Linked DNA regions of Homo sapiens: regions 2, 3, 4 and 5 are each reported to be linked to region 1. Evidence: microRNA targets listed by miRTarBase, many of them from high-throughput screens and not tested one by one. Region 1 holds a microRNA gene; each other region holds the end of a gene's coding sequence.

Evidence for each region. Region 1 holds the annotated microRNA hsa-miR-551b-5p (GAAAUCAAGCGUGGGUGAGACC, at 3,539-3,560, opposite strand). A microRNA usually pairs through its seed, bases 2 to 8, with sites in the 3' UTR of a target mRNA and lowers its output. Matches are read on the target gene's strand: a 7mer-m8 pairs with bases 2 to 8, a 7mer-A1 pairs with bases 2 to 7 and ends in A, and an 8mer does both.
Region 2: the mRNA of GPR180 is a reported target of hsa-miR-551b-5p. Seed matches in the 3' UTR shown: 7mer-m8 at 4,733-4,739, 7mer-m8 at 4,314-4,320, 7mer-A1 at 2,324-2,330, 7mer-m8 at 2,256-2,262 and 7mer-m8 at 1,714-1,720.
Region 3: the mRNA of NSUN7 is a reported target of hsa-miR-551b-5p. Seed matches in the 3' UTR shown: 7mer-m8 at 4,637-4,643.
Region 4: the mRNA of TNIP3 is a reported target of hsa-miR-551b-5p. Seed matches in the 3' UTR shown: 7mer-A1 at 1,696-1,702 and 8mer at 1,737-1,744.
Region 5: miRTarBase lists PECR as a target of hsa-miR-551b-5p. Seed matches in the 3' UTR shown: 7mer-A1 at 1,900-1,906 and 7mer-A1 at 2,589-2,595.

What each region holds. Positions count from the first base shown.
Region 1 is chr3:168,549,310-168,555,434 of GRCh38, reverse strand. It overlaps MIR551B (microRNA 551b), which reads right to left and starts at 3,581; the gene lies at 3,486-3,581. It also overlaps the pseudogene EGFEM1P.
Region 2 is chr13:94,625,789-94,631,913 of GRCh38, reverse strand. It overlaps GPR180 (G protein-coupled receptor 180), which reads right to left. Exons shown (of 9, transcript NM_180989.6): 8 at 5,871-5,948; 9 at 1-4,901. The coding sequence ends at 4,743. Among named protein-coding and RNA genes, the nearest start is that of GPR180, 27 kb to the right of the region's middle.
Region 3 is chr4:40,807,492-40,813,616 of GRCh38, reverse strand. NSUN7 (NOP2/Sun RNA methyltransferase family member 7) reads right to left here. Exons shown (of 12, transcript NM_024677.6): 12 at 2,433-5,310. The coding sequence ends at 4,678. APBB2 (amyloid beta precursor protein binding family B member 2) reads left to right here. Exons shown (of 18, transcript NM_004307.2): 18 at 1-3,590. Among named protein-coding and RNA genes, the nearest start is that of NSUN7, 61 kb to the right of the region's middle. RefSeq lists an enhancer at 5,451-5,951.
Region 4 is chr4:121,127,881-121,134,005 of GRCh38, reverse strand. It overlaps TNIP3 (TNFAIP3 interacting protein 3), which reads left to right. Exons shown (of 11, transcript NM_024873.6): 11 at 1,344-2,598. The coding sequence ends at 1,375. Among named protein-coding and RNA genes, the nearest start is that of TNIP3, 33 kb to the left of the region's middle.
Region 5 is chr2:216,034,858-216,040,982 of GRCh38, reverse strand. It overlaps PECR (peroxisomal trans-2-enoyl-CoA reductase), which reads left to right. Exons shown (of 8, transcript NM_018441.6): 8 at 1,623-2,595. The coding sequence ends at 1,708. Among named protein-coding and RNA genes, the nearest start is that of MREG, 24 kb to the right of the region's middle.

The DNA.
Region 1 (6,125 bases):
GAGTCACCATACTGAGGGTTCTCATCAATGGGTTAAATAAGCTGTGAAATATCCTCACTTGATATTTGTAGGAATCATTTACTTTTCTTAATTTTTAAAAGTATATTTTGACAGCATTCTTCATCTTTAAGAGAAAAATGCATGTCATTCTTACATAAGCCAGAGTTACTAATGTGCCCCGACTGCTCCACCAAAAACAATAAAAGGGTTTTTATTTTTTTGCTTTATAAATGATAAGAATTGCATGTTTGTATATGGAGAGATAATCTATCTAAATTCCATTTAATTACATTAGAAACAAATAGGATTAACTATACAATTACTTTCCCTTGTAAAGGACAAAAGCAACCAGTTCAAAAGAGCTTTGTTTTAATGAAGAAAGAAAATCAGGAAATATACGCCATTATTGCATAATTTAAAAAGTAACCACCATTCCCTAACCCCCGCCACCAACCAATACAGACACACAAATTCATGCAGACATGCACATGAGCTCATGCAGAACTGCAGGTCCATGGCTAATTTCTTCCTAAGGCAGTCACAAAACAGCCACAGGGAGGTCAATAGGAGATATTAGCTTCCACAGTTGGACCTTGTAAATCTCACAATTTTGAAACTGGAGGTGAAGGAAAGGATTGCTCTTTATAGTAATGTAGGACTATGGCATCTAATGTTTTTCCATTACTCACTAATCTCCTTTATAAGAAAGAGAACAGGCCTCTGGCTTAGGCAGACAAAGTGCCTGGCTGGGAATTTATAGCTTAGCTTTTATTTTTCAGGTGTTTACTTCCTAGTTATCTTTTACTTATGACAAATAATTCTGGCCTTTCATTTTCCTTTTAATGAATTTCAAATAAAAAAAGGATAAATAATAGTACAAATGGTAGAAGGATATGAAAAAAACATTATGAATGTGTTGAGTAAACAACGAAAATTTGGGGAACACTCTGCTAGATGAAACTGATATTTGCAATAGAACTCGGTCTATAATTGCTGACCCCAAGCTATCTTTTAATGAATTGTTAAGGACAAACTCCTCCAGGAGGAGGTATAAGGCTAACTAGTAAAAAGTGATCACGAAATTGAGGGTTAAGAGACCTTTATTCAAGCACTGGACATGTCATTAGCTGGCTGTGAAATCTTGAGTGTGTAAACCTGATAAAATACAATTTCATGATTTCTAAAACTCCAAATGAATGATTTCTAAGGGTCCTTTTAACTTTAAAGTGCAGAGATTGGCTACTATGATCCACACTGATCTCTCCCTCATCTATACTCCTATTTTACATAATAGAGTTTAGCACTGATTTATTTTTAATTATTTCATAACTGCCAGTTTTGCCTTTCTATCAAGACTGTAGGATGGCTGAAGAGAGGAATCACCTCAAATCTTTTCTGTAACTTAAAGAATGGTTTATTTAATGCTGTCCAAGTAGTAACACTCAATAACTGTGGGATCACTTGGTAATTGGCCAGCTTTTAGCTTTCAGCAGAAATTTAATTTGTTTTCATAGAAAATAAAGTGGCAACCATATAAATTGTTTAAAACTTGGAGAATTGTTTTAGTTAACTCTCTATTTTGTGAGTAGTTTATTGTATAAGAATGCTATGGTTTGAATGTTTGTGTTGCCCCCAAAATTTGTATATTGAAATCCTAACCTCCAAGTTGATGGCATTAGGAGGGGAGGCCTTTGGGAGGTGATTAAGTCACGGGCACAGACACCTCAAGAATGGAATTAGTGCCACTATAAAAGAGGCCTGAAGGAGTTGCTTGCCCTCTCTATCACGTAAGGACAAAGTGAGAAGATATTATCTAGGAACCATGAAACAGGCCCTCATTGAACAATGAATCTGCTGGTGCCTTGTTCTTAGAAATCCCAGCCTCCAGAGTTGTGAGAAAAAAATTATATAAGCTATCCAATTTATGGTATTGTGTTTGGTTTAGTAGCAGCCTAAAAGTACTAAGTCAAAACACATGGTGATGTATTAAAACTGCTCTAAAATACATAAACTTAAGCTACTAACCAAAACCTAGCAAATTCATAAGAGAATTGATAAAGATGAATTTGGTAAACTTGTAATCTATAAAAAATTATCTAAATAACTAAAGTACTCTAGAACTATGCTCTACAATATAGTAGCCACTGATCACACGCTGCTATATAAATTTAAAAATTTAGTTCATTGGCCATTTTTCAAGTGCCTTGTGGCTAATGTCTGTCAAATTAGTGCAGATTGTAGGTCATTTCTGTCAACACAGAAAAATCTACCAGACAGCACTTCTTTAGAATGTCCAGGGAGAAGCTCTTTCATTGAGATAATTCAAAGAAAACCATGTTTATCCAATGCATTTTCCAAAAAAGGAAAAGCCTTGGCGAAGAATTTGGTTTATTCTTCTCAGAACCTAACAAAATGGGGAAATGTCCTTGATTAATTTTGTGTGTTTATAAATTAAGGTACCTTAAGTGGAACAAAGAAATACCATTTATAAATAGAAAATGTATTACAAATATGAAAGTCAATTAAGGAAATACAAAATAAATCTTTGGAAATGACTTTCATATTTTTCTCACAGCCTACCAAAATCCATGGCCAGGAGATATGTAATATATACTTGGCAGAACTTGCCTTTATAGCTTAATTTTCTGTGCCAAAGATACAGGCCTTCAGAATTCTTGTTGAGAAAATAAAAAGTAATTGTGAAATGGTTCCTCTGGCCTAAGGGATGACAACATACATCAACACCATTATACCCTCCCTACCCACCCACAAAAGTTTTTAAAGAGTATAGAACAAACAAACAAGCAAATACAACCTTAACCAACACCAGCTCAACAGATATAGTCTATAAATTAATTATCAGCAAAGGTACAAAGTATGCAATAAAGTACTTAACAATATACATTTTATTTACCTCAGTTTCTCTACTTCTCTACATCTTACCAGATGGGTTATTTGAAAGAACTCCAATCTCCTACACAAAAAAGCAGGACTCTGGCAGATTGCTAACTAGAGATTTTTGGCCCTATAGGCAAGCATCTGTGAGTGGGGCTGTGTGGGAAACAAAAATATGTTGGAAAAAGAGTTGATAGATGCCCCAGCATAAATGAGGACCCAGCAAAATCCATACTCCTGTCATGGCATCTCTGTCCATCCATTTCTGTTAGTTACCAAGGAACTAGCCCAGAGCAAGGGCAAATGGACCACAATAGCTGGAGAAGTGGGAGAAAAGGAGGTATACCTTGAAGGAGTAAACAGTTTTGGATTTGTACAATGTTTTAAAATCATTAACAGAGACATCAAATCATTAGCTGTCAACCTGGTTCAACTTACTTAGAATACGTGTTTTTTTTTTTTTAATCCCATTGGAACAGAAATGCAATATAATCATGAATTTCATCTCTTATTCTTTATGTCTATAATAAATTTTGTTTTTTCTCTGGAAGTCCTGCATAAACATAAATGGTATTCCCTCTAAATTGCAGTTATTCTCACAGCCTCTGAAACCAAGTATGGGTCGCCTTCCCGTTCTGCACCAGGTCTCACCCACGCTTGATTTCATGGGCCAGGAGAGCACATCTGGCAGATCTAACAGAGGTCTGAAGTCAGGACAGTTAGCTAGAAGGTGATAAAGGAGTAAAGCAAGAGAAGATACAATAAAATCTGTTGTATAAATAACATTTTATGTAAGAACCAGCAAATATAACTCAGGGGAAGACATTTTCAGTGCAATTTTCCATTCGGATTATCTGTACTGTATCCAAGATAATATGTAGCGACAGGTAAACATTCAACAATTCTTTCAAAATCTATTTTGTATATATTTCTTTACTGTCAATTTTCGATCATCTGGAAAATTCAACTATACAGTCTCACCCAGTGTACTTTACACCAATCGTTCTGGACTTAAATGTCTTTCTCCATCATCAAATTGTATTGACAAAGTATGCAGTTCAAGAAAGCCCTTCTAGTTTTTATGAGGTACCAAAAGGAAAATACATAAAATTACAATCTAAGATACCCTGACAACACAAAAATCCACAGAATTCTTTCTTGATACCTAAAACTTCGTATGACAAATTTGGTTTTATAAAATGTAGAGCTTTCAAAAAAAAAGCATACCATAACATTTTAAGAAATTCTAAAGTCTTGAGTAATTTGTTAATTTAGGATCTATAAATTTGTATCACAATTTTCCAACATTAAAAGAAAAATGAAAGCTAAGTAACAGACAAACCATGTTGGCATGATACTTTTAAATTTGCAAAATGCAATTATTGTCCATATAAGATTACCAAATAAAAACAAAATCAGAGTCATAGCATAGCAGAACTGAAAAATACCTCGAAATAAGCTCATAGCCTAATCCCAATAATTTAGAAATGGCAAAACAGGAGTTCTTGACCTTCATTTTAACCTGAGTTTGGAAATGCATCACTAGAGGTTGCAGGAATCAGTGACTTGCGTCAGCTCAATGTGACCAAGCTCTATGCCTCCACATATCCTCCAACAAAAATGAGAAGCTAAGGACATTTCATGACTGATCCTGAGAGTGGCCCAGAAACCTCTTTGCTCCATTGCCTCCCTGCACCTGTTCAGTTCCATTTCTACCTGGTTCCCTGCTCAGCTTCATCTCATTGCCATCAACCCTTGCATCAACACTTAAACTTGGTGTTGCCATTCTGTACCCTAGCTTTACTCTTCAGTGATCTTTTTTTCCTTCCTGAGACAGAAAGACTCATCTTGTCTGGGCCCCCCTATTTACCATAATCACCATGCCTCCCCCTCCCACCTACCTCACGAGCTCAGATCTTGGTGTCCACACGGAGCCTCTCTAGTATGCCAGCCTTGACAGACAGCACCATTGTTAACAATTTCCAGTTCTTTACAAGGTCATTGGATTTAACTCTTCAAAGCACTGTGCTTTAATTTCCGAGTGGCACTTTACCAACATTAACTTCTTTGTGGAAAGTTTTACATCAAGGTAGCATTTGCTCAAAGGGCATGGGCCACATAATAGGGACCTTCCAAGGGACCTTCATTAATGCATAGTGTGGGGTAGAGGAGTGGAACTAGTGATACAACAGATGAAAAGGAACTTTCCAAGTGGGCAATTAAAACAGGGCATTCCAAAGAGAAAGAGAGAAAGAGAAAGAAGGGTGAGCAAGTAAGAAGTATGGAAGATCCAGGAACTCCTGGAAGTTCATTATCACCAGAGAACAGGTAAAAGGGGGGACCTGGTGAGAGATCCAGAAAACTGAGGAAAGATCGGACTTGCAGGGACCATGTTGTCAAAGGCCATGCGTGAGTGCCAGGGAATTTGGATGTTTTCTCGGTAAGTGGTGAGACAGCAGAGGCTAGTTAGAAAGCTGTTGCCATTTTCATGTGAAAAATGAGAGTATAAAATCAGACTTGTGGCAGTGAAGATAAAAACAAACAAACAAACAAAAAACAACAACAACAAAAAACAATGAACACCAATAGAATTTGAGGATTGGATGTTGAGGAAGAATGCACGAGGACTCATGGGTTTCCAGCCCCCTGAACGTGGTGGTTATGACACCATTTACTCAGAGGTAAGGAGAAATCATAAAGAGATTTAAAGAAGGTAGGAAATTAGCTCAATTTTAACCATGGTAAATTTGAAGTAAATAGACTTGAAGATCCTAGATTTTAAAACCAAAAAATATAGTCAGGACAGCACAAGGACAGCATGCAGAGACAGAGTAATGACTGGAGGACTGAAAACCAAGTACTCCAATTGAAGGAGAAAGTTAAGGGGAAAATATCAAGAGAAAGAGCATGCTAACTTTTACACAGACCATGGGATGTCATATTACCCTACAGAAATATTTTAAAGCTTACAAAGTTTTTTGATGTTTTATCAGATCTCAATTTATAACTATAGTTGACAGTGACATAGAAGACATTTGCCTTTTTGCTATTTTAAATGCAAACTTCAGCCTAGCTTATTGTAATACTGCAGTTATTTCCAGCCACACACATGCAGATTCACAAGTGAAATAAATGCTTTAATACAGTATTTATATTGATTTCTATGTAGTACAATTGCTTTGAGGATCTCTACTAATCATTGACTTTACTTTACACTAAGGCTTCATGTA
Region 2 (6,125 bases), not on the chromosome of region 1:
GGCCAGAAACCAGACACATGGTCCTATTACAGGACTACATAAAATAAAGAGAAACTGCCTCTGTGAGAATTTGAGAAATCCTCTCGTAACTGATGTTTTATGACAACTACTTGACTAGTCAAGATTTTTACACACTACCAAGTTCCATGCAATTGAACAAAGAATAGGCAAGGTATTATTGAAGTCACTACGGGTACTTCTATTACATAATTAATACTACACTGTTAAGTACAGATTTGGAACTTTTTCAGCATTGCCTTCATTCACTCAAAAATATTTTTGAGCATCTAGTATGCACCAGGGAGTGTCCTAGTATTAGGCATACAGCAATGAACAATAGAGACAAACTCACTTAAAATTTATATTCTAATTTGAGAGATGACAAAGATAAACCAGCTAAGTACAACAAACAAAAAAAGGGATAATATGATAGAACTAGGATGGGGGAATAGCATTAGGTAGGATGGTATGGTTAATCAGGGTCTGATCAGAAAAGAACCACTAGGATCTAATACACATACACATATCTTAATATTCAAAATAAGGGGCTTATTATAGGGATTATAGGAGGCGGTTTCTTTTGTGTCTGGCAGTTGGAAAGGGAAGACATGGGAAATGGGGGAAGCAAGGAACTTGCTAGGATGAGTAGAACCTGTGGGAACTGAGTGGAACTTGTGAGGATGGACTGGAAGCCATACAGGTCTCTCCCTGCCTCTAATCCTCCAGTGTGAATGATGGAGTTGTCCAGCAGAAGCTGGCACCCTTTGTCAGAGTAAAACGCACACCTGGCCCAGGAGCCAGAGAAGCTGAAGGAGCCATTCCGGCAGGAACTGGTGTTCCTGTGGGCCTGGCTGTTGTCCCACAGGCCAAGAGAAGCCAACAGATAAGCAATAATGTGGATAAGCTGCAACAGTGCCTTGTGCCTTGTGCCTTGTCTGGCCCTTCCTCTTACAAAAAGAATGCAGATCTGGCTGCTACTTTACTTCTGCCTTCTATATCTTGTATCAAACATTTCTTATGGCCTACATTGTCCTGAAATTATGCATGGAAGAGAATTCTGCAGAACCTATCTCCAGGTTGACTAAACTGCACCATATAAATCCACCACAGATGGTGAGTTCTCTAAAAGACATCTCAGCTGAGAACCTGAAGGATGAGGATTCAGCCTTCCAACCATGCTAAGATTTGGAAGAGAATGTCCCAGGCAGAGAAGATGGCTAGTGCCAAGTATCTGAGGGTGTGATATAAGCTAGATCTTTTTTTGATGAAGGACAATGAGGCTGGGATATGTGTGTGAGAGAGTGGTACAAATTAAGAGATAACCAGATCATATGGGCCTTGCAGAACATAGTAATGAGTGAGGACTTCTTTTCCTAAGTGCAATGAGAGGCACATGGAGGGTTTTTGTCAGGGAAGTAGTAGTTTGATCTGATTTATATGATTTTTAAACTTTTTGAAATAATTTCAAACTTACAAAAAAATTACAAGATTAGCACAAAGAATTTCTGTATGCTCATCATCCAGATGATTTCCATTTTTAAGAGATTGTTTTGGCTACACTGTGGAGAATGGCCCTAGTGGGCAGGATCACTTCTTTCCTCACCTCCAGGCTTCATGGCACTCCTACAGCACAACACATATGATGCCCCTGGAGCTGTGCAGAAGGCTGCCCAAGTGTGGACATGGTAATATTACTTAGAGAGCTATTGCAAGAAATCAAGCTACGGTGCTTCTACCACACTACTTTCAGATCACAGAGGAAAACCAATCTCATTATTTTAGTCTCAATTCACAAATACATGTTGGAATAAAAAACAGTATTACCTCTTCGTATCTGGCTACTTCTAACAATCATATCAATTCTCAAAACAAACAAAAAACAACCTCAATGATTTGATACCACAGAAGCTATTTAAGAAAATGTTTCACAGATAATTCCAAATTTCCAAATTCCAAAGAACGTGCAGTCTCCTAGAAGAAACATGCTGAAGGAGCCCATGTTCATGTTGATAGATAGGTTCTAGTCTCATTATTTTAGAGATGATCTCAGATTTGTGTATCTCCTATGTTCATCAGATGTGACTTTACTGGAGATAATAAATAATTACCCTAAAGCAAGCTCTTCTGCCTAGATTAACTCTCCTGCTAGTAATACTGTCTGGTTAAAAGCCAGGTTCAAATACTGAAGTGTGCTGAGGTCTTACAGATATTCAAGCGCATGTTCTGATTTTAGCACAATTCCAGTTTTAATGTTCAAATCAACAGCAAAAATTATGATGGATAGCAATTCATTCTCACTAAAACACAGCTAATACATGTTCCTTAAATCATGAAGGTAAAGTGGAAAAACTAAATAGTTTGATGACCTTAGAGAAATCATTTATTCTCTCTTATACTCAGTTAAATGGGAGCCTGGTTATCACAATAGAGATGAGTAATAATGAAGGTAAAATGCCTGGTAAAATGCATCACAGTAGGCACCCATCTTATTATACACATGTCAATAAAAATAAGCATCTATTTTTTAAGGGAAGAAAAGAAATGCTTCTTAATAAAGCTCTGGATGAACCATTTATCTTCTTTCAAAAAATGTAAAAACACATAAAAAAGCATTATCTGACAAAGAAAAGTAGAAAAGATTTTTATCTTTAATTAGAGTTTGTAGTATACACTTAACTTTCTGTAATCTGCAGTGATGAATCTCTATGTAAACATTCAGAAAAAGAGCGAATACTGTGTCATGACTTATGAACTATAAATTTTGTCCCTGATTACTAGTCAAGAACAGTTTTATACATTTATTAACAACTACTTTCCTCCACTTAACAACAGCTCTTAAATAACAAAATAAATTATCAGCATTTCCAACCATAAATTTAAGAATTAAAGTTTAAAAAACTGGTTAGTTTCATAAATGCAAGCAGAGTAATAAATTTCATATATGTTAATTGCAGTTACTTATGTTCTTTGAGTGAAGTAACACAAAGATTTTTCCCTTCCCCTTTTGGCAAGTTCACAAAATTCATGAAAAGTCTTCATCTTTTTCTTTTTTGCTTAATTTCTTTTTTGCATCTCAGCTGAACACAACAGACAATAGCTGGGGTTATTAGCGAGACATGATAAAAGAAAAGGTTATGACCACTCAGACGATCATGTATACCTAAAACATAACTCAGACTTTCTAGTCTTAACCTGTAGCTCTAATGTACTAAGTGATTTACAAAGAACTAATAGAGAGATGATTTAATGAGCAGGTTGAACTTGGTAACTTTGTCATTTTGGGTCACAAACACATATTCTGCCCTGAAAATGAGGCAGAATACTAGTCATTTCCAATGAGACTAGGTACAAAAGAAAAACAAAAACAAAGCCATAGATATTTTTAAGTTGCACTACATTATTTTAACTATTTAATTAAAAAATTTAACTACCAGATCAGTGCACTGTTGCTTGCTTAAACACACAGTAAATAGATAAAAAATATTTTTAAAATAAGCCAGAAGTAAAAAGGAAAAGGCCTGAACAGCTTGACAAACAGCAACAGAATAATTTCCAATCAGTGACTATTAATGGGAATACTCATTTTATACAGCGAGTATTGACAACCATTTAGCAATTCTTTAATCAGGCACTTGATATTTTTTAGCTAGCATACTCAATACTGGGGCATCACACACACACACAAAAGTATGGCTTTATTACAAAGGATTCAAGATGGCAACTACTTAGAATCCAGTGCCAACACGGATTATAACAAATCCAGTGAGTGTTTTGTTTTTCAATTATTCATAGAAAATTTAATCCTGATTAAGTATCCTTGGGCAGGAATTCATGGGTAGTTGATGACTGAAACCAACATTTATGTGAAATGCTTCTGTTAATTTAATCTGTGTATACGGCTTAATTATGATTGGGGATTCAACGTAAGAGAAATGAATTCTATTGGGATCAAAATTTCAGTACCATATCACATAGTACCTTTTCCCTTCTTTCTGTTTAAACACATAAACCTGCTTGTCCCTTCACCTAAGTGCTCAGATTTTAAAATCCTTTGTCCTTACAACCCGTGTAATGTATTTAAGTTTTATTTTTTCATAAACTGTTTGTCAAAAACCTTTGCTAATCAAGCTAAAACCTGAACTAGAGCCAAAAATGGCAGAAAAAATTGGAGAATAACTCCACCCACAAATAAACAAAAGCTTATTCATTTAACTGTGAACCTATTTTATATTCATTTCCTGAAGTAATTTCAATTCCTTTAAACTCAAATATGAAATACATTTTCCTTAAAGCATAAAAAGCAGCAGTTTTAAAAATCAATGTATTACACTGATTTCATAACTGGACTAGTTTAGATATTTATAAGCAAGTAATCATTTAACTGATTACTTTTTATAAGACTATTAAACCTGAGTTAGCTATTAAGATGAGGCATTATAAGTGGTGAATATTTTACCAAAATATCATAGTTATTTTTCACATTTATTTCCACATAGAAATCGCTTCAATAATTTTATAACAACACTTTCTTCAAAGTTTGTTGTTTAAGTATATTTCAAAACATTTCATTTATTACCTTTTTTTTCAGTCTTGGTACTGCTTAAATGCAGTTATATAAATAACATGCTCTGCTTTCGCTGTTCAAGTTTTCATACTAAATGTATGAAAAAAAAGTCACTGTATTTGGATCCTTATTGCACTCTTTTAACCAATTCACTTTTCCTCTCAACAAAAATCAAGTATCAGAAATGAGGGCGACTTTTGTGTCCAGATGATATGGTCAGTGGTAGTGTTACTGAAGAAAGTGAAGAAACTTCCCAGTATAGACTGTGAGACAGAAAGAGTCTGTAGAGAATAACCATGGAAACAGACTGGCAAAGGATAACACCTATTGTAATAACCTGAAAAGAAAAGGAAAGGAATGCTTTTACTACATGCAGAAATAGAGAAATAATATTCAATTTATTATGAATCTATATATGCTTTTTATATAAATACAATACTCTATCTTTCATCTTTACCATAGGTACATTTTATCAAAAAAATTTTCTGACTAATGCTCAGAACTCTAATTGTTTAAGGATAAAAATCCCTTTAACAGTTATTTTGTAGATGACAAAGTAAGGCACAAAAGAATAACTTGCTAAACCATTCTCTCCTAAGGGTATGCACTACAGACAAGTTTCAGTAAATAAGAAAAATCAGGTTCCTAGCTAATTTAGGAACAGGAATAAAGCACGCTCCTACCTGAACTTTAAAGAGTACTCTAAAAGCCCTTTCAAAAATTCTCAAGTTGCTTCTCTATTTTTGTAGACTACTGTCCTATCTATTCACCCTTTGTAAACACCTCAGGCTCAATAAACATTTGTGCATTCAGGCACATACTGCATTGCTTGTAAAGGGCTCCTGGCAGACCTCTATTTTGAAATGATGGAGCCATTCACCTAAGAAGGTAGGTATCAACACAATCAAAATGCATCATACTTGAGCATGGCACTCTGGTTTGTAGTCTGTTCAATAACTAGACTGATTTTTACAAATCTTGATTTTTGCTATTATGTAAGAAAAATTTTAATCATTTTTTAAAAGATGTATTATAAATTCTCTAATTTATAAAACAAAATTTCTATTTTAAAATTATCTATTGTAGTACAATCAAGAAAAGCTATTTCCACCATTTTGCTTATAAATATTTTAAAAATATTTTAAACTTCAAATTTATCTGCTTATTGGTTTACTATTTTGTTTCAAAGTTTTAAATAACCCAGAAAATGTCTTAAAAAATAAATAGGTCCCTCCTATTTAAATATTCTCCCAATTAAGACAATATTTTCATTAAGAAAACTACTTTGATCATGTATATTTCTTACCTTGTCTCTTTGGTAGTCGCTAAAAATGACAGAAATGCATGCAAGAACTGGATGGCATAAAAACCACAAGATACAGCCCTGAAACAAAGGAAAAAGTGAAATAAGTAGAACTGTGTAGCTTTTTTTCAGCATGTACCAGACAAAAAAATGTTACTAGCATTTTTAGGTTCTGATTAACCTCAACAGGCCTTTAGAGTACAGCCTGCAATAAAATGTAGAAATAAATTTACTGTTGCTGTGACATTAATATTTTGT
Region 3 (6,125 bases), not on the chromosome of region 1:
TACATATTGAAAACTTTGCAGACGTTTTGTTTTGAAAATGGCATTGTATAGTAAATGCAAATTAATTTTGTAAAATTATGTTAAAGAGTATGTTCAGACACTTTCTGCCATGGCCAAAAAGTATGTATGAAAGTATGTGTGTATTTGTTTGTAAAAGGATGCCAATGTTTTACCTGATATCTTAGTGACACTTCAGTTATCTATGCATTCTTTAGATCTGTGATTCGGTAAACAGGCAGCCATGTTCACGATGCCTTCTATGTCTTACCATATTTTTAATTAACCTGTTAAATACAGCTTAAAATATTTTTATTTTATTTATTCTATTTTTACTGAAATATACTGCATTATTGTGTTAATGTATTATCTTTCCTGGATATTATCTCCCAGTGTATCCAGATCTAAGTAATCTCAGTGAACTATACATTGCCTAAAAAGTGGTTTTGTAATGATTTGTAGTCACATTTCTATTGGGATATGTAGAAGAAAAGGCAAAATGCTTAAAGTTCCTTTTATTTTTTAAAAGCAGCTAGATAGACACAGACTTGCCACCTCATACATCTGCTCCTTGGCAACATCAAGGGGAACGACTAGCCAACATGCCTATGGCTAAAAACTTTCCTTTGCAGACTAAAGCACTGCTTGGTGCTTCGTTTTTCTACCCTTCACAACATGTGTGATTTCATCTAAGAGATATATACATGTACACATGCCCTTTGTTTCCACCTGGATACAAGATCACTCATAGCTAATTAGGACCATTGTTTTTTGTTCATCTGTCTTGTTGCATGAAGGGACATTAGACCCATTTCCATTAAAATAAGTTCTTGGTGATAAACTGTGGCACTGCTACTTCTTTTTAAATCCACTTTATGATTTCAAGATGGACACTTGTAAGATGACTCGACACAAGGCCATTGCCTGGAAGCCCCAGAGCTTTCCTCTGTTTGTATGGCCCGTTCATGTCCCAGGCATTGCAACACAAACTCCTCAAGATTTCACCACAACATGACAAGCATTTTCCTAACTGATATTAGCACAATTTAACTAATAAGCCCCTTCGCTCTCTAGTTGGCCAGGCTTAACCTAATACACATCTAACGTGTGTGCCACACGGCCAGTAGAAAGTTTAACTTCAGCTTCAGGGCAAAGATACCCACTCACACCGTGTCAACGCAAGCAGTAGTTCCTGGCCTCCAGAGCAGCTTACTTCCCCTGAAAGAACGCTTTGTTTTCCTTTATGCCCTTTTCCTGTTGACCACTTTTACACATTTAAATGTAATTTGTTGTGAGAATAAATTTAGCTGCATAAAACGTTCGGCTCATTTATCTGACATCTTAGTCACATATACAAGGAATAGAAATAGAAACTCGGTGTCTCTAGTTATTTTTAAATTATTCTTACCTCAGACTTCTTAGAAATCACTTTAGTAATGGAGCATTTTGCTTTGATTAGTTACTACATATTTCTGCCTGGTAAGAACTAGGAAGTAACTTCAAATTTTGAGTAATCACCCTGTACTTATTTGGTGATCAGGAAGGCCAGCTGGCCTTCCGGACATAGAAGCCTATTTAGTCACCAACTCGAGTCTTTTGTAAGCGGTCTTGCTAGGATTGTGATATTTTAGCACGAAGAAGTTTATCACTTCCTTTAAGAACCTGACATCAAAGAATAAAGAATAGAGGTGTACACACACTAAATCCAAAATGAAAGGTAACTAGAGAAATCAGTTGAATCTGGTTTAGCTTAACTGTTAGGCGCAGGAAGGCAGATAAACAGAATTTAAAGTATGTCCCCGCTTTTTGTTCATCTTGCACTTCCACAGTGGTTTCTCTCTAGTCAGTAACAAAATTTCATTATGGTTTCAGGCATTATATGGTGGTAAATAATTTCAGATTAAAAATGTGTTTGCTATTGGAGTATCTGAATACTAGTAATTTCATTATTTAGAATTTTGCAGCACTTTTATCTCAAGAAGAAGTCCAAGAATGTAAAATGCCAAATGAAACATGTCAGTGGAATCAATATTCTCCTTCATTAGAATTCCCTCATATTGCTTTTTTTTTTTTTCTTCAGACAGAGGAGTCTTACTCTGGAGTGCAGTGGTGTAATTTCAGCTCACCACAACCTCCACCTCCCAAGTTCAAGCAATTCTCGCCTCAGCCTCCTGAGTAGCTGGGATTACAGGCATGCACCGCCACGCCTGGCCAATTTGTATATTTTTAGTAGAGACAGGGTTTCGCCACGTTGGCCAGGCTGGTCTCGAACTCCTGACCTCAGGTGATCCGCCCGCCCCAACCTCCCAAAGTATGTGAGCCACCACGTCCGGCCTCATATTGCTTTTATCCAAAATTCTTTTCCCTTTTCACTCTACCAAAGTATTTAAATAATCCTGTCCTTCATAGAAGATTCTCAAAGAAGAAAACTGCAGTGTAATTAATGAATGGTTTAATTCAGAATCTTCATATACTTCTAAAGAGAAAAATAATTTAGTGCCAAATGCATGTTAGGAGATAATCAATGTAAGTGGCAACAAATTGTGACTTCACATGCTACTGTAGAGATCAGAAAATTATCCTAAACTATTCCATAACAATGAGACAACATCACAGAAAATACACTTGAAAATAAAAATCTCAAGACCAGCTACTTCTGGACAATGGAATACTTTTCAGTCTGGTATGGTGGAGGGCCCGAAAAGGATAAGGGATTCTTATGATACACAATGGGATTCTTTACTGAACAATATGTTAAATTAAGCTGCACCGCCTTCCTTGAGGCATGGACTACCCTAACCAACCAGATAGAAATCTGGGTGGGATAAGAGGATGAGCCACACGCTATAATTTTAGGGCAAGGAGATAGTGTTTGATTTTCAAAATCAGCAAAATAAGCTGAGCACTTTATATCTTTCTGTACAAGAGTGATAACATGAAGAATTCTTCTTCAGGGATTTAAAATACAATAAGCCTGGTTCAACTATAAAAAGTCTTGTTTCCTTTCTTCATTGACACTTTTTTTTTTTTTTTTTTTTTTTTGAGGCAAGGTCTCACTCTGCTTCCCAGGCTGGAGTGCAGTGGGGCAATATTGGCTCACTGCAACCTGCACCTCCTGGACTCAAGAGATCCTCGTACCTCAGCCTCCTAAGTAGCTGGGACTACAGGCGTGTCCCACCACACCCAGCTAATTTTTGTATTTTTTGTAGAGATGGGGTTTTGGGGTTTCGCCATGTTGTCCAGGCTCGTCTGGAACTCCGGTGCTCAAGTGGCGTGCCCACCTCAGCCTCCCAAACTGCTGAGATTACAGATGTGAGCCACTGCACCCAGCCCACTGACACGTTTTACTGATAAATGTAAATCTAAGCTAAAATAAAAATAATGTATTACCGCTATAATACAATTCACCATTCTCTTTTCTCACTTCAAGTAAGAAAGTAAAAATAGAATATCAGAGCTGAAGTAGACCTAAGTATTCATCTTGAAGAAGATAATATTCTAAAAATCATGCCACCTGAATTGAGCATTTAGGAATTTATGTAACATTTCTATACAACTGAATTGCAAAAATAAAACTTTAAATTCAAACTTTATGAATATGTCTATGAATGTTTTTAAATAATAAGATATATAGTTGTATCTTAATTCTATTTAATGACAATTTCTGTTGCCATGATGAAAAATCAGTAGACCCAGAAATGATAATCATACCAATTTTTGGTAGGCAATTGAGAATACATTCAAGATGAATCGACATTTAATATAATTAATTAACATAGTGCTACAATATATTTAATTGTGCCTCAGAAATGATTTACCAAAGTTTGATTCCTGTGTGCTATTTGAAATGACTTGTAGATTTTGTTGTATCCCCTGATCTTAGAATCAGAAATTTGTGGGTTTCTTCAACAATAGGTATCGCTTGCATTCAACAGTTTTGCCTCTTCTTCAGAATTATTAATATTTAGATGGAAATTTGCTCACAGTCTTTTGTAACAGTGCTTGACATAGAGGAAGGGAGAGATGATTGTGTCCAGTCTGCTCAGGATCCTGGAAGCTCCCCCAGTGAGAGACACCTCACTGTAAAAGGAACTCTGAGCTACACACACCTGGCACTTGGGAACTTCCTGCGCTTCCTACTTAAACTCAACTTCAGTCACGTTACAAAAACTCATGTTCATTCCCTGTTCAAAGAACAGCTTGATATTTAAGAAAAAATCACCCTTGATCGTGACTGAGAAAGTCACGACTACAACCGCATGGATGCTGAAGAGCGGTCAGCTGGCGGGAGAGGCCAGGATCGTTTGCCTGTTTGGCTTTCTAATGAGCTACCTGCTGAAGGGAGGCAGTGTTTCCTTCCCTGCAGGGGAAACTTGGCAGCTTTAAGTCCAGCCTGAAAGTTCACAGGAGTGAGATAAGTTCTGACCGCTGATACTGAGTCTCTAACTGGATCCTCTCAGAGCAGCAGTGATTGGCTGAAGTCTCTGAATTCTGCTTTGCTGACTCCTACATTATTGTTTCTCACTTGTCTGAATTCTCTGAAAGTAATATCACACTTAGAAGATCCCTAGGTGACCAAAAGAATGAATATCTTGTGTAGAGATGTAGAATCTTCAGAGAAATACTAGACTTTGAAAAAAAATCAACTGCTCTTTGGCCCCTATAAAAAACACAAGACAATCAAAGCCATCGCCGAGGAGGCCTGAGTAGGGAGGAAGGTGTGTCATCTTTAGGCTTTTCCTCTTTTCTGGATAGTGAGTGTGTGGGAAGGCAGGTGGGCACAAGTGCCTTGGGTGCAACCCAACGACAGTACAAATGTTGAGTTGGCATCCGAGATCTGATCCCTTGGGGACTTGAAAATGGCATAAAGACTGGAGGCAGAACAATCTTGATGGGTTTCAGAGCAACCATTCTGTCTTCTGGCCGAGGTCTTAAGAAGTGTGTCTGCCGTTCACGCGGTCTGGAGGGACAAGTGTTCTTCACAAATGCAGGCACTGCAGGATGGGGGGCCAGCTTGTTGGGTTTTCTGGTCTGTGAGGAAGCCCCCACTTGAGCAGTATTTTTCTGGGGAAGAGGTGGTTTTGTTACAGTCTCTGATAGATTAGCACTGGCTTTAGTTTCTCGATTCAGGAACTCAGCAATTTTCATTTGGATGCCATTATCAGTAGTGGCACCTTTTGTCAATGATGTTTTTGATTTTTTCTTCTTCTTCTCCCGTTTTGATGATTTACCCAACTCAATCCCATCCAGCAGACCCTTGGCTGCAGCTCGGGCCAAAACATCATTCACAGACACTGTCTCAGAAGGGTCCCGCTGCAATTAAAGAAGCATTTACTAAATGTGGGAGTTAGCTATTATTGTGTCTCCCGCAAATATTTATCAATGTATCAGTAAAAATAAAAAGACTCTCTTTATTATACTAAAAGAAATAAGAAATAGTTTTTAGGCCTTAGTCCCCAATCTCATAAGCCTCAGCGAATGCCTTTTTAAAAAAACAAACAAAAAAAAAACTTAAACTTCCCCATTTATGAACCTGATACCTGATAGAAAAAAAGAATCACACAGATTTTTTTTTTTTTTTTTTTTTTTTGAGATGGAGTCTTGCTTTGTCGCCCAGGCTGGTGCGATCTCAGCTCACTGCAACCTCCACCTCCCAAGTTCAAGCAGTTCTCCTGCCTCAGCCTTCTGAGTAGCTGGGATTATAGGCATGTGCCACCACACCCAGCTGATTTTTGTATTTTAGTAGAGATGGAGTGAACCATGTTGGCCAGGCTGGTCTCGAACTCCTGACCTCAGGTGATCCACCCACGTCAGCCTCCCAAAGTGCTGGGCTTACAGGCTTGAGCCCCCATGCCTGGCTGCTTATTTCTTACATATGAGGGAAGATGCACTAGATGTTACAAAATGCTTGGGGAGGTGGGGGTGGCAGCCAGGCAGAAGAGGAACACTCGGGGGAAGTATAAAGAACAGGGCTGGCCGGGTGCGGTGGTTCACACCTGTAATCCCAGCACTTTGTGAGGCCGAGGCAAGTGGATCATGAAGTCGAGTTCAAGACCAGCCTGGCCAAGATGGTGAAACCCCGTCTCTACTAAAAATAAAAAAATTAGCCGGGCATGGTGGTGGACGCC
Region 4 (6,125 bases), not on the chromosome of region 1:
TTTTTCATAGCTCTGGAGGTTAGATATCCAAAAATCAAGATGTTGGCAGGGCCAAGCTCCTTCCAAATCCTCTGGGGAGGAGACTTCCTTGCCTCTTTCAGCATCTAGTAGCTCCAGGTATTCCTTAGCTAGTGGCAGCATCACTGCAATCTCTGCCTCGGTCTTCACATGACCATCTTCCATCTGTGTCCAAATTTTCCTGTTCTTACACACACACCAGTTACAGTGGATTAAGGCCCTCCTCCCACCTTCACTGTACATTTAGGGAAATTCTGCCTTCCCTTCAAGAACCTAAAGACCTATCTTTGTTTTTGTTCAGATTTCCATTCTGCCGTGGATTATCTCATTGGCCACAGCCTCTCTCCATCTAAAATATCAGGCTATTGATCTTTAATTCTATGCCTGTTTCACAAGAGCACTGTACAAATTGAAAAGGAGTTAATTTTAAAATATTTAAGATACCTAGGGAGAGGTATCATTAGTGGATTTATTTAATGTTAACTTCAGATTGGTTAGATCAATTAATTTATGCTTCTGAGTTCAAATTTATGTTCTCAACATATTAGATACCTTTTTAACATAGTGACCACAGTCCTCAGCAACATAATTTTTCAGCCTGGAAAAGTAACTTATTATCTTCCTATTTGCTTTTTCTGTTACCAAAATGTTAGTTTAGCACATCTTTGGTATACCAAATGAGGACAACAAGTACAAAACATTCAGCATATTTTTAAGTTATCAGGGATAAGGATAACTCTTTGTTTCTTGGCATTTCTATGATTATTTTTTCCTGTTGCCATGAGTAAACTTATTTGACTTTGTCTTTCATGTAGTATTCATTATCAAATAGTACTCAATCAAAATATTCCAGATTTTTCATATTGGTCTTCATGATACACCAACAAGTCTTTCTATAGGATATTTTCCATAGCTTTGGCAATAATGTACCCAGTACCATATATTAAAAGATCATATTTGGCAAGTTTTCTTTCTCTGGGGTAAGTACTGAACCTAACCTAAGTCATATATATGACTTACTTTCACATGCCCAAGCCAAAATGCCAGCAAGAGTGAGAATTAGTATAGAACATTCCTCCTCAGGCATAATTAGAACGAGGCCACAACTTATTTCACAAAATGGTAAGCATATGTCAATGCTTAAAATAATAACCCTCCATCTCCCGCTTCTTGATTTCTCAGTGTAAACTTGTGGGGAGCTTATGAATATAACATAACTTTTTTTTTTTTTTGCCATCCTGGAACTTTATGTCAGCCTTAAGCCAGAAGAAGAGAAATGAAATGTTAATTTTTAATCTAAAACATTTTCCTACTGTTTTCCATAGGTTTATCCTCAGTAAAGAAAGTCCATCCGTAGAAGTACACACTAACAGAGAGAGACAACAGGCAACGAGGGAGCGTGGCTGAGGACCCTCTTCTTTGTTTATACTGAGGCTTGTTTCTGCCACAAAGGCACATCATCTACCCTGTTATTTGTGCCTGGTCATGTTTTCCTTTGGTATGAATACAGGAAAAGGCTTCTGACAGCTAAGATCCTGATCAAATTGGAGGAGCCAGTTATTATACAACCAAATACAACTTCCAGTTTCCTTGAAATGAGACTTGGCAGATGGATGATGCACGACTCCCTGAAAATCTCTTCAGCATATTGCTGTTGGATGCACAAAAATGATTCTATGATTTAGGCAACTCAGTGTTTGCTGCAGGGATATTGTATGTTGATTTAAAGTGCATATGTGTGTGTGTGTGTGTGTGTGTGTGTGTGTGTGTGTGTTTCCTGGGGTAAAAATTTCTGCAGTTGTAAACGTTTAACATTGCTCCCATTCTTCTTCCACAGGGCCTTAGTTCTTTAGCTATTTGACTACATATTGTTGACCTCAGTGATCCTAAACGTAGAATTGAAGAGGTGTATATACCTCATTAAATTAAATAAGTGGTTCAATCTGAATAAGATGGTTAATTGGAAGCTATTCCTTAGACAGATCATTTCTTTAAGATGATGAGAAATTGTGCGCCTGCATCACAAGACTTGATTATGAAAGATAAAGTCTTGGGCTGGGTGCAGTGGCTCATGCCTATAATCCCAGCACTTTGGGAGGCTGAGGCAGGTGGATTGCTTTGAGGCCAGGAGTTCTAGACCAGCCTGGCCAGCATGGTGAAACCCCATCTCTACTATAAATACAAAAATTAGCCAGGCTCGTGGCACACACCTATAAACCCAGCTACTCAGGAGGCTTGAGGCGGGAGGATCACTTGAGCCCAGGGAGGCAGAGGTTGCTGTAAGTTGAGATCGCCACTGCACTCCAGCCTGGGAAATAGAGTGAGCAAGACTCAGTGCCCCCTACCCACCCACTCCACACCACCAAAAAAAAAAAAAAAAAAAAAAGGAAGACAAAGTCCTGATGGGATGATGATGGCTATATGGCTATGCTGTGTCCATATATACTTACAGAAATATTTCAGACATATGGATTTATAGTTAAATCTGTGTTTTTCCTTCCCTTGGATTTGATTAATTTTAATGAAAAACTTAATTCTGACTTCTCAAGCCAATTAAAATGAAAATGGAATTTATTGAAATTTTATTGCAATTAAATCTTATAGTGACATGACAGATGTCTAAAGATTAAGCAGATTTAGAAGTATTAAGTTTATCCATTTAATAAGAATTCTGCTAGGACTAACTTGAGATCCTCTTCGTGATCCTCTGTATACATATATACATATATATGTGTGTGTATATATGTATATTCTCACAAATATGATCTCAAATTATACATTTATATGTATATACATATATATATATATACATATAACAAGAAATGTGAGATCCTTGGATATCTATGCTTCTAGAAGTAAACCTAAAGCAACTGCAAAGCTGAAAATGCAGTTGAAGAAAACAATCCAAACATACTGCTAAAATTATCCAGTTTCAGCTTCCAAAAATTATGCTACTTTATTCCAGCTCAAATTATTATTATTCCAGTATCTGGATACACCTGAAGCTCTGTATAATGGGAAGATGAAAGAGCCTTAGGAAAATAAATATTTTCAGGTTCAGCCCTTTGCAACCCTGGAACATAATTCTTGACAAAGAATTATCCTTGTCTTACATTAATTTTCTGAATCTTGTTTCTGTTACTCTTTATCAAAGAGACAAATCATTCTTGGATATTACTTCAGTATAAGTATAAGCGTAAGTATAAGTCAGCTGCTGACTTGTTAACTGTTGTTTTCCTGATTCACCTATACTGAAGTAATACCCAGGAATGGAAACATTTTGGCATTTCAGATTAGTGAAAAAGTCATTGTGATGTCAATTTCTTGTGGTGGATTTAATTTGCCAACTGAGGTACGCCCACTGGGATAAAAACTGAACGAACACCCAAGAAAGTACTCCTTGAGAGGCCAGGCCCAGGCCTATTTAGCAGCAGGCAAATGTGATTTAACTCTCCAGTCCAAAGTCATCCTCTTACTAATTAGCAAGTTGCCAAACGTTGGCAAGATTGTGGAAATGCTAATGTAATGGGAGAAAACCCAATTTAAGTGAGACCTAATTTAATTTGAACTCCAGTGGGGGACTACAAATGTGGAAAGAGGAGCCCTTGCTCAGGGCAACTGCCGTTCCCAAAAGATGGATTTCACAACCCTGTCCTGAGAGTGACCCAGCCTCTCCTGTGTCCCTCTACCCACACCATTTGTTTGGGGACTTTTCTGCTTCAACTCATTATAAGAGTTATACCCTGAGCTGTGACTCTTACTTCATTATTAATAATACACAACTTGTGGAAATTGTGTGAAGAATAGCTATGTCCCTTTGAAAGGAGAGGAAGTCACGTGATCTGTTCTTAGGAAATGTAAAACTAAGCGTATTTTAGGTTGTTGGTAATCATGAAGATTTTGATCTTTGATTGAAGGTCTCACATGAAGAGAAAGTTGTCTTTACTTTGTCTTGGTTGTGATATGGTTAGGTGAAAGCCTTCCTTCAGGGTCTGGTTAGAACTGGGAGTTAGGCCAGCCTCTACTTCTCTTTGCTATGTTTTGTTTTGGGCTCCACTTTTCTCACCAACAAAAAGAATATTTTGGACTATATTGCTAGCATTATTGAGCATGAACTAACTTGTAGATGATCTCCCTTAGTTTATTTACTGAGCTTTCTCACCCAGCAGGAGAGGTATAAATACCGCCTTGATGATTAATCAAGAACACAGAGAGATTCAGTAATTTCCCTAGGTTCTTATGGCAAGTAAATGGTAGAGCCAAGATTCAAAACTGTCTTGAACCTGGGAGCACCCAGTTTTTGGCGTGCTACAATTCTGCTTTGTAGATTACCTTGGAAAGCTCAACTTATTTTTATGATTCTTTTGGGTTATCATCAAGTAGCATTACAGGAGCACACTTCTTAGGAGAAAATATTTTGATTAAAAATACTATAAATTGAATGGGAATTGTAAGTTGCCTCCTGAATTAAGAGAAGTAGTATCTCATTTGCGCTACTACGTGGGAAAATAAAAGTGTATACTAATGTTAAAATGCACTAAAATAATGCAAGCATGGGCATAAATGATGCCTTCATGTGTCAACACTTTTTTTTTTATTATACTTTAAGTTTTAGGGTACATGTGCACAATGTGCAGGTTAGTGACATATGTATACATGTGCCATGCTGCTGTGCTGCGCCCATTAACTCGTCATTTAGCATTAGGTATATCTCCTAAAGCTATCCCTCCCCCCTCCCCCCACCCCACAACAGGCCCTGGTGTGTGATGTTCCCCTTCCTGTGTCCATGTGTTCTCATTGTTCAATTCCCACCTATGAGTGAGAATATGCAGTGTTTGGTTTTTTGTTCTTGCGATAGTTTACTGAGAATGATGATTTCCAATTTCATCCATGTCCCTACAAAGGACATGAACTCATCATTTTTTATGGCTGCATAGTATTCCATGGTGTATATGTGCCACATTTTCTTAATCCAGTCTATCATTGTTGGACATTTGGGTTGGTTCCAAGTCTTTGCTATTGTGAATAGTGCCGCAATAAACATACATGTGCATGTGTCTTTATAGCAGCATGATTTATAGTCCTTTGGGTATATACCCAGTAATGGGATGGCTAGGTCAAATGGTATTTCTAGTTCTAGACCCCTGAGGAATCACCACACTGACTTCCACAATGGTTGAACTAGTTTACAGTCCCGCCAACAGTGTAAAAGTGTTCCTATTTCTCCACATCCTCTCCAGCACCTGTTGTTTCCAGACTTTTTAATGATTGCCATTCTAGCTGGTGTGAGATGGTATCTCACTGTGGTTTTGATTTGCATTTCTTTGATGGCCAGTGATGGTGAGCGTTTTTTCATGAGTTTTTTGGCTGCATAAATGTCTTCTTTTGAGAAGTGTCTGTTCATGTCCTTCACCCACTTTTTGATGGGGTTGTTTGTTTTTTTCTTGTAAATTTGTTTGAGTTCATTGTAGATTCTGGATATTAGCCCTTTGCCAGATGAGTATGTTGCGAAAATTTTCTCCCATTTTGTAGGTTGCCTGTTCACTCTGATGGTAGTTTCTTTTGCTGTGCAGAAGGCTCTTTAGTTTAATTAGATCCCATTTGTCCATTTTGGCTTTTGTTGCCATTGCTTTTGGTGTTTTAGACATGAAGTCCTTGCCCATGCCTATGTCCTGAATGGTAATGCCTAGGTTTTCTTCTAGGGTTTTTACGGTGTTAGGTCTAATATGTAAGTCTTTAATCCATCTTGAATTAATTTTTGTATAAGGTGTAAGGAAGGCATCCAGTTTCAGCTTTCTACATATGGCTAGCCAGTTTTCCCAGCACCATTTATTAAATAGGGAATCCTTTCCCCATTGCTTGTTTTTCTCAGGTTTGTCAAAGATCAGATAGTTGTAGATATGCGGCATTATTTCTGAGGCCTCTGTTCTGTTCCATTGATCTATATCTCTGTTTTGGTACCAGTATCAAGCCAAAAGAACAAAGCTGGAGGCATCACACTACCCGACTTCAAACTATACTACAAGGCTACTGTGTCAACACTTTTAATGTGGCTAAGTCGCTAATAGAATCAAATCTAAAAGACATATGACCTCCCAATTTTGTAA
Region 5 (6,125 bases), not on the chromosome of region 1:
TTCTATAAGCCTCTATTTTGTTCCTGTATGCAGGGACACATACAGTATTTATTTCATAGAGCTGTTGGGAGGATTAAATTAGATAAGGGACTTTTTCTTTTCTTTTTTTTTGAGACAGAGTCTCACTCTTGTTGCCCAGGCTGGAGTGCAGTGACATGATTTCGGCTCACTGCAATCTCTGCCTCCCAGGTTCAAGCAATTCTCCTGCCTCAGGATCCAGAGTAGCTGGGATTACAGGTGCCCGACACTATGCCCCACTAATTTTTTTGTAGTTTTAGTAGAGATGGAGTTTCACTATGTTGGCCAGGCTAGTCTCGAACTCCTGACCTCAGGTGATCCGCCTGCCTCGGCCTCCCAAAGTGCTGGGATTACAGGCATGAGCCACTGTGCCTGGCCTTAGATAATGCACATTTAAATCCCTATGTCAGGGGCTGGGCACCATGGCTCACACCTGTAATCTCAGCACTTTGGGAGGCAAAGGTGGGCCAATTGCTTGATCCCAGGAATTCAAGACCAGCCTGGGCAACCTGGCAAAACTCCGTCTCAACAAAACATTTAAAAAATTAGCCTGGCATGGTGGCATGTGCCTGTACTTGGGAGGCTTAGGTGGGAGGATCACTGGAGCCCGGGAAGTCGAGGTTGCAGTGAGCCATGATTGCACAACTGCACTCCAGCCTGGCTGACAGAGCAAGACCCTGTCTCAAAAAATAAAAATTAAAAAAATAAAGTCATTTGTCGAATTGGATGCTTTTAGTCACAACTCAAAATGGGCTCATCAGTAAAGGAATTCGCTGGCACATAACTGAAAAACAGGTAAGACTTGACTTAGTAGCTCACTGATCTCATCAAGGACAAGTTTTTCCCCTGTTTCCTGTTTTTGCCTCCATGGTGTTGGCTCTATCTTAAGGCAGGCTCTCCTCATTGCAGGATGGCTGCCTGCTGTTTCTATGTGTAAGGCTGATACTTCTGTGTTCATACCCAGATGCACAGAGAGAGGGCTGGAGGAGTGACTTTGTTCCAGAATTTCTAACAAAATTCTGAGATCCACTCTATATTCGATCAACTTATGCAAATGTCCATTTCCAACCAATAACTGTGGCGGGGTTATAGTGCACTGACTGACTTAGCTTAGACCACATGCCTTGGTGCCAAGCTTCCCTGGCACCTTCTAGATCGTTAAATGGAAACAAGCTGTTGGAAAGAAGAGATGGGGACCTGGATGCTGGAGAGGCAAGTAGCAGTGCCTGGTACAAAGTAAGGACACTATTTTTAAATTGTGATTATTAAGGAGACACTATTTATTGACGATCCACAGTATGCGAAGCACTGCACACATGGTGTCATATTTAACCCTCACAACTTTAAAAGGTAGATATTGTTGTATCCTTTAATAGAGGAGGAAACTGAGGCTCAGGAAGAGACATGTGCCCAAATTCAGGAAAGCTAACGTGTGGCAGACCTGAGATTCAAATTGAAGTCTTTTCTCAAATGTTTGCCCTAAGGATTTATTTTTTGGTGCTGAGAAAATGTGTGAACCAGGGAAATTAACAAGAGGATTTGGTGGGAGTGAAGAGGGCAAATGAGATTTGCAAGTGACAGGAGGCTTTCCACTTCTTTAACAGATCATGACAACTGGCCCAAGGGAGCAGGGGACCTTTCTGTTGTCAAAAAGATGAAGGAGACCTTTAAGGAGAAAGCTAAGCTCTGAGCTGAGGAAACAAGGTGTCCTCCATCCCCCAGTGCCTTCACATCTTGAGGATATGCTTCTGTACTTTTTAAAAGCTTATAGTTGGTATGGAAAACATTTTTCTTATTTTTAAGTGTTATTAATTATATCTATGGAAAAACTATTCCTGAAATATATACAGTCTTATGTCCCAATCAGAGTCTTTTAACCTATGATTTAAAAATGTATAAGTAACAGAAATTAACATATTTTAATGACTTTACTTTTTATTTCTAAGAAAAGTATTTGAAAAATGGAATAATTTTAAATCAATGATAATTCTAGGGATCATGAACTCCCAGAAGATTTTATTATTTAATTGTAAAGGTAGAGGCCAGACGCAGTGGCTCACGCCTGTAATTCCAGCACTTTGGGAGGCCGAGGTAGGCGGGTCAGTTGAGGTCAGGAGTTCAAGACCAGGCTGGCCAACATGGTAAAACCCTGTCTCTACTGAAAAACAACAAAAACAAAAACACAAATTAGTCGGGTGTGGTGGCACACACCTGTAGTCCCAGGTACTTGGGAGGCTGAGGCAGGAGGATCGCTTGAACCCAGGAAGCAGAGGTTGCAGTGAGCTGAGATCATGCTACTGCAGTCCAGCCTGGGCTACAGAGTGAGACTGCATCTCAAAAAAAACCCAAAAAACAAAAACAAACAACAACAACAAAATTATAAAGGTAGAAAATAAACCTAAATTGTGTCGTAATTAAGATTATTAAAATTAGAATTATACAATGACTTATTTTTGGTGGCAAATACTTTAGGAGCAATAATGCCTTATGGTAATTATTGATGTATAGTTTCTTTTGTTTATGAAGTCAAATTTGTATAAATTCTCTTAATTCAAAGAAAAAGTTTTATGTGATTTATTTTTGGCAGTGCCTGATTTGTGTCTTGATTTTCTGTCCAAAGTATTCCCTTTTTTCCATGTATCTCCTTTTGTAGGCAAAAACAAAATTTCAGTTGCATGCAAATGTATTAGGGTTCCATATTCTGCCTTCCGTGGCTCCAGTCTGATAGTTAGACCCTTATTGAAGAAATGCCTTTAGCAGATTGAATATGTTCATTCTTTGTCTTAATCAAAGTTCTTTCAAGTATCTGAGGTGAAGTAGCTATTTTCTTTTTTTTATCATTAACACTCACTTTATTTATTTATTTATTTATTTATTTTTAAGATGGAGTCTCACTCTGTCACCCAGGCTGGAGTGCAGTAGCATAATCTCGGCTCACCACAACCTCCACCTCCTGGGTTCAAGTGATTCTGCTGCTTCAGCCTCCTGCGTAGCTGGGATGACAGGTGTGCACCACCACGCCCGGCCAATTTTTGTATTTTTAGTAGAGATGGTGTTTCACCATATTGGCCAGGCTGGTCTTGATCTCCTGACCTTAAGTGATCTGCCCGCTTTGGCCTCCCAAATTGCTGGGATTACAGGTGAGAGCCACCACGCCCGGCCTGTCATTTACCCTCATTTTAAAGTGTGTGAGTTACCAAGCTCTGGGGTTTGGGACCCAGAATCTGCAGCTTTCTCATGCTCCCAAGCAGGGCTAGCACGAGGGAGAGGCTAATGAGGTGCCCAGGGTGCAGCATTTAAGGAGCTATTCTCCATTGTCAGGTTTGTGCCAGTGCAGAATTGCCCCTGAGAGTGAGTGTGTCCTTCAATTTTGTGCTCATACTAATAATGTGGGAAGATCAGAAAGCTTCATTTTCCTCCCAGATAGCCCTTTAACAGTGGCCTTCTGGAACTGATAATATCATAACAACTGAGAATTACAAACCATGTTAGAGGGAAAAGTGGCCCTAATACAGGTTGGTGGAGAAGATGGAAAAGGCAGGGCTTGCTTTCACATGACCTGTGTTAATGACTGCCATCGACTCCTTAAATCTCCATAGCGTTGCCAGTTATTTCTGCTTAAGGGACAGAACCTGCCTATGTAGCACTAAACTTAGGTACAACTGCTTATTAGAGCTTCTTCTTAGACTATCACTGGACAGCTGGTCATTATCTATATTTTTAGAATTATGAATTTATTATCCAGGACTCTTATGTACATCATAATAGTATCCTGTCAATAATGTACTTTTGCAACTACGCTTAGTAAATTTTGTTGTAGAGTGACTGTTCTTGAATAGGCTTAATAATTTGGAGCACCTACTATGTATTTAGCATTATGCTAGGAGTCAGACATGCAATGGTGAAAAAATACACATGTATCTTGTCCTTACTGAGCTTACAGTAGGGAGAGATTGAGAGAAAGAGAGAGAACACGAGTGCTATAAAGGATAAGGCCATGATGTCCACGGCATATAACTGAAAGACAGGAAACAAAATGAAAATTCTATATTTATGTAAAAAGAGTTTGTTGATAAAGATGACCCTTGTGAACATTATACCTCCCCCACACTAATCTTATGCTTTGTGGCTTATGTTCAGGTCCTCTGAAAAGCAGGTGCCCAGACATAATGAGATTTGCATGACACTTATTGGGTACCAGGCCCATGAAGGATAAGGGCAGGGAGCCAGAGAAGGCAGCGATGGCCTTCAGACCATGCTGCAAGGCTGACCCCTGTAAAAGAGAGGGGAGAGAGGATTGGGCAGGAGGCATCTCAGATTGCAGCAAAGTGATGCTTTCTTAAGACAGGCTTGCTGAAAGTATGCATTGACATTTACAGTGGCCCACAGGAATACCAGCAGGCGCTCAGTGGGTCATGTGGATTCTCTACAGTGTAAAAGTAACTCTCTCTCCTCCTGCTGGTGCCTGGACAAAGGGAGTTCAGAGATCAGTTCCAGCATCAGTCATAGTTTGTAGCTCACTGGGACCTTATGTCCCCTGGCAAGAGCCTCCCTCTTTGGCACCAGGATTTCCAGTGCTGCTATTCTCCTTAAATCCTGCAGCAGATCATTGGGAATGATGGAATGCAGGGCCACTCCCAGTTTCATCTACCGGATCCCAGACATGGTCCCAAACCTACTGGGGACATGCATCTTTGAAGACAGCAAGCACTCCATCCTGGCCCTTCAGCTGGGTCTTGGTTGTTCAAGCCCTCTATGAGGCTGGCTGCCTATGGATGGTGCGGGGTGTGGATACACAGTGGTTCCACAACCAGGGGCTCACTCTTTCGTCTCCTTCACTGGGAGGTGAGTCACCTGATTGGATGCTATGCCCCATGGGATTCCATGCCTATGGTTCAGGCTTTCTATAGCCCCCAGATAGTCATGGTGTCTGAGTCCCTGCAGGCAGGAAAGACAAACTCTTGCCTGGAAGAGGTATCTGTCACTATGAGGAGTGACGCAGAAACCACACAGCAATTTGAACAGGGCAAGTTAAAAGTGAAGAGTGATTATCACAGCAGATTGGAGTAGTGAAGGACTGGCTAGTAGGAAGTAAAAAGAACTTGAACATGAGAATAGCAGATATCAGGAGTAGCCTGCACCACTAGGACTAAGACTGAGAGCTCAAAGAAGAACCTTGGCTGGGCGCAGTGACTCATGCCTGGAATCCCGGCACTTTGGGAGGCTGAGGTGGGCAGATCATCTGAGATCAGGAGTTTGAGACCAGCCTGGCCAACATGGTGAAACCCCGTCTCTATGAAAAATACAAAAAATTAGCCGGCCTGGTGGCGGGCGTCTGTAGTCCCAGCTACTAGTGAAGCTAAGGCAGGAGAATCACTTGAACCTGAGGGCGGAGATTGCAGTGAGCCAAGATTGCACCATTGCACTCCAGCCTAGGTGACAGAGTAAGACCCTGTCTCGAAAAAAAAAAAAAAAAGAAGAGCCCTCCATAGCACCCCTGGGGCTGACACCCAGATTGAGTAGGGAGGGCATGGCTGTGAATCAGTGGAGGGCAGAGAAGTCACTGTGGTGCTCTGCTGGTGGAACTTGCTAGAAACCTGCCCTCTGGCATCCTGGGGAAAACTGTACAGAGAAGTGTCCTACCAGAGGCCTCTGATGCAAAACCCCCTGAGGGAGGTGCTGGGAAGCTGGTGCTCCTTAGCACTCCTGTGAAGCAGTCTGCACTGCACGGGTCAGGAAGCAAAACCCTCTTCCTCCTCCAATGTCTCTCCATCACCCTCTCCCAACAAAGCTTCAGAGCCCGCTGGCTCAGGGGAACAACTTAGAGGACCCAGATCCATTTTCTCAGAACAGAGGAGCAATTACATCTGGAGCCTGCCACTTGTCGACTGGCCGTCCTGTGGCCCATTGGTCTCCTTAAAGAGCAATGCCACTTCAGGGCTCAGCAATGATCTGTGTTGCAGGAAGGTTGGACATGCAGGGGCAGTGACAGCTCCGTTGACCTTGGTTAACAGGGAGTCCATGCTAATGGGCCGTCTACAGCCTGCCTCCATCACTGTGCCTGTCACACCAGTTCTGGGCTGGCCGGTGATGAAGTCCAGCTATCA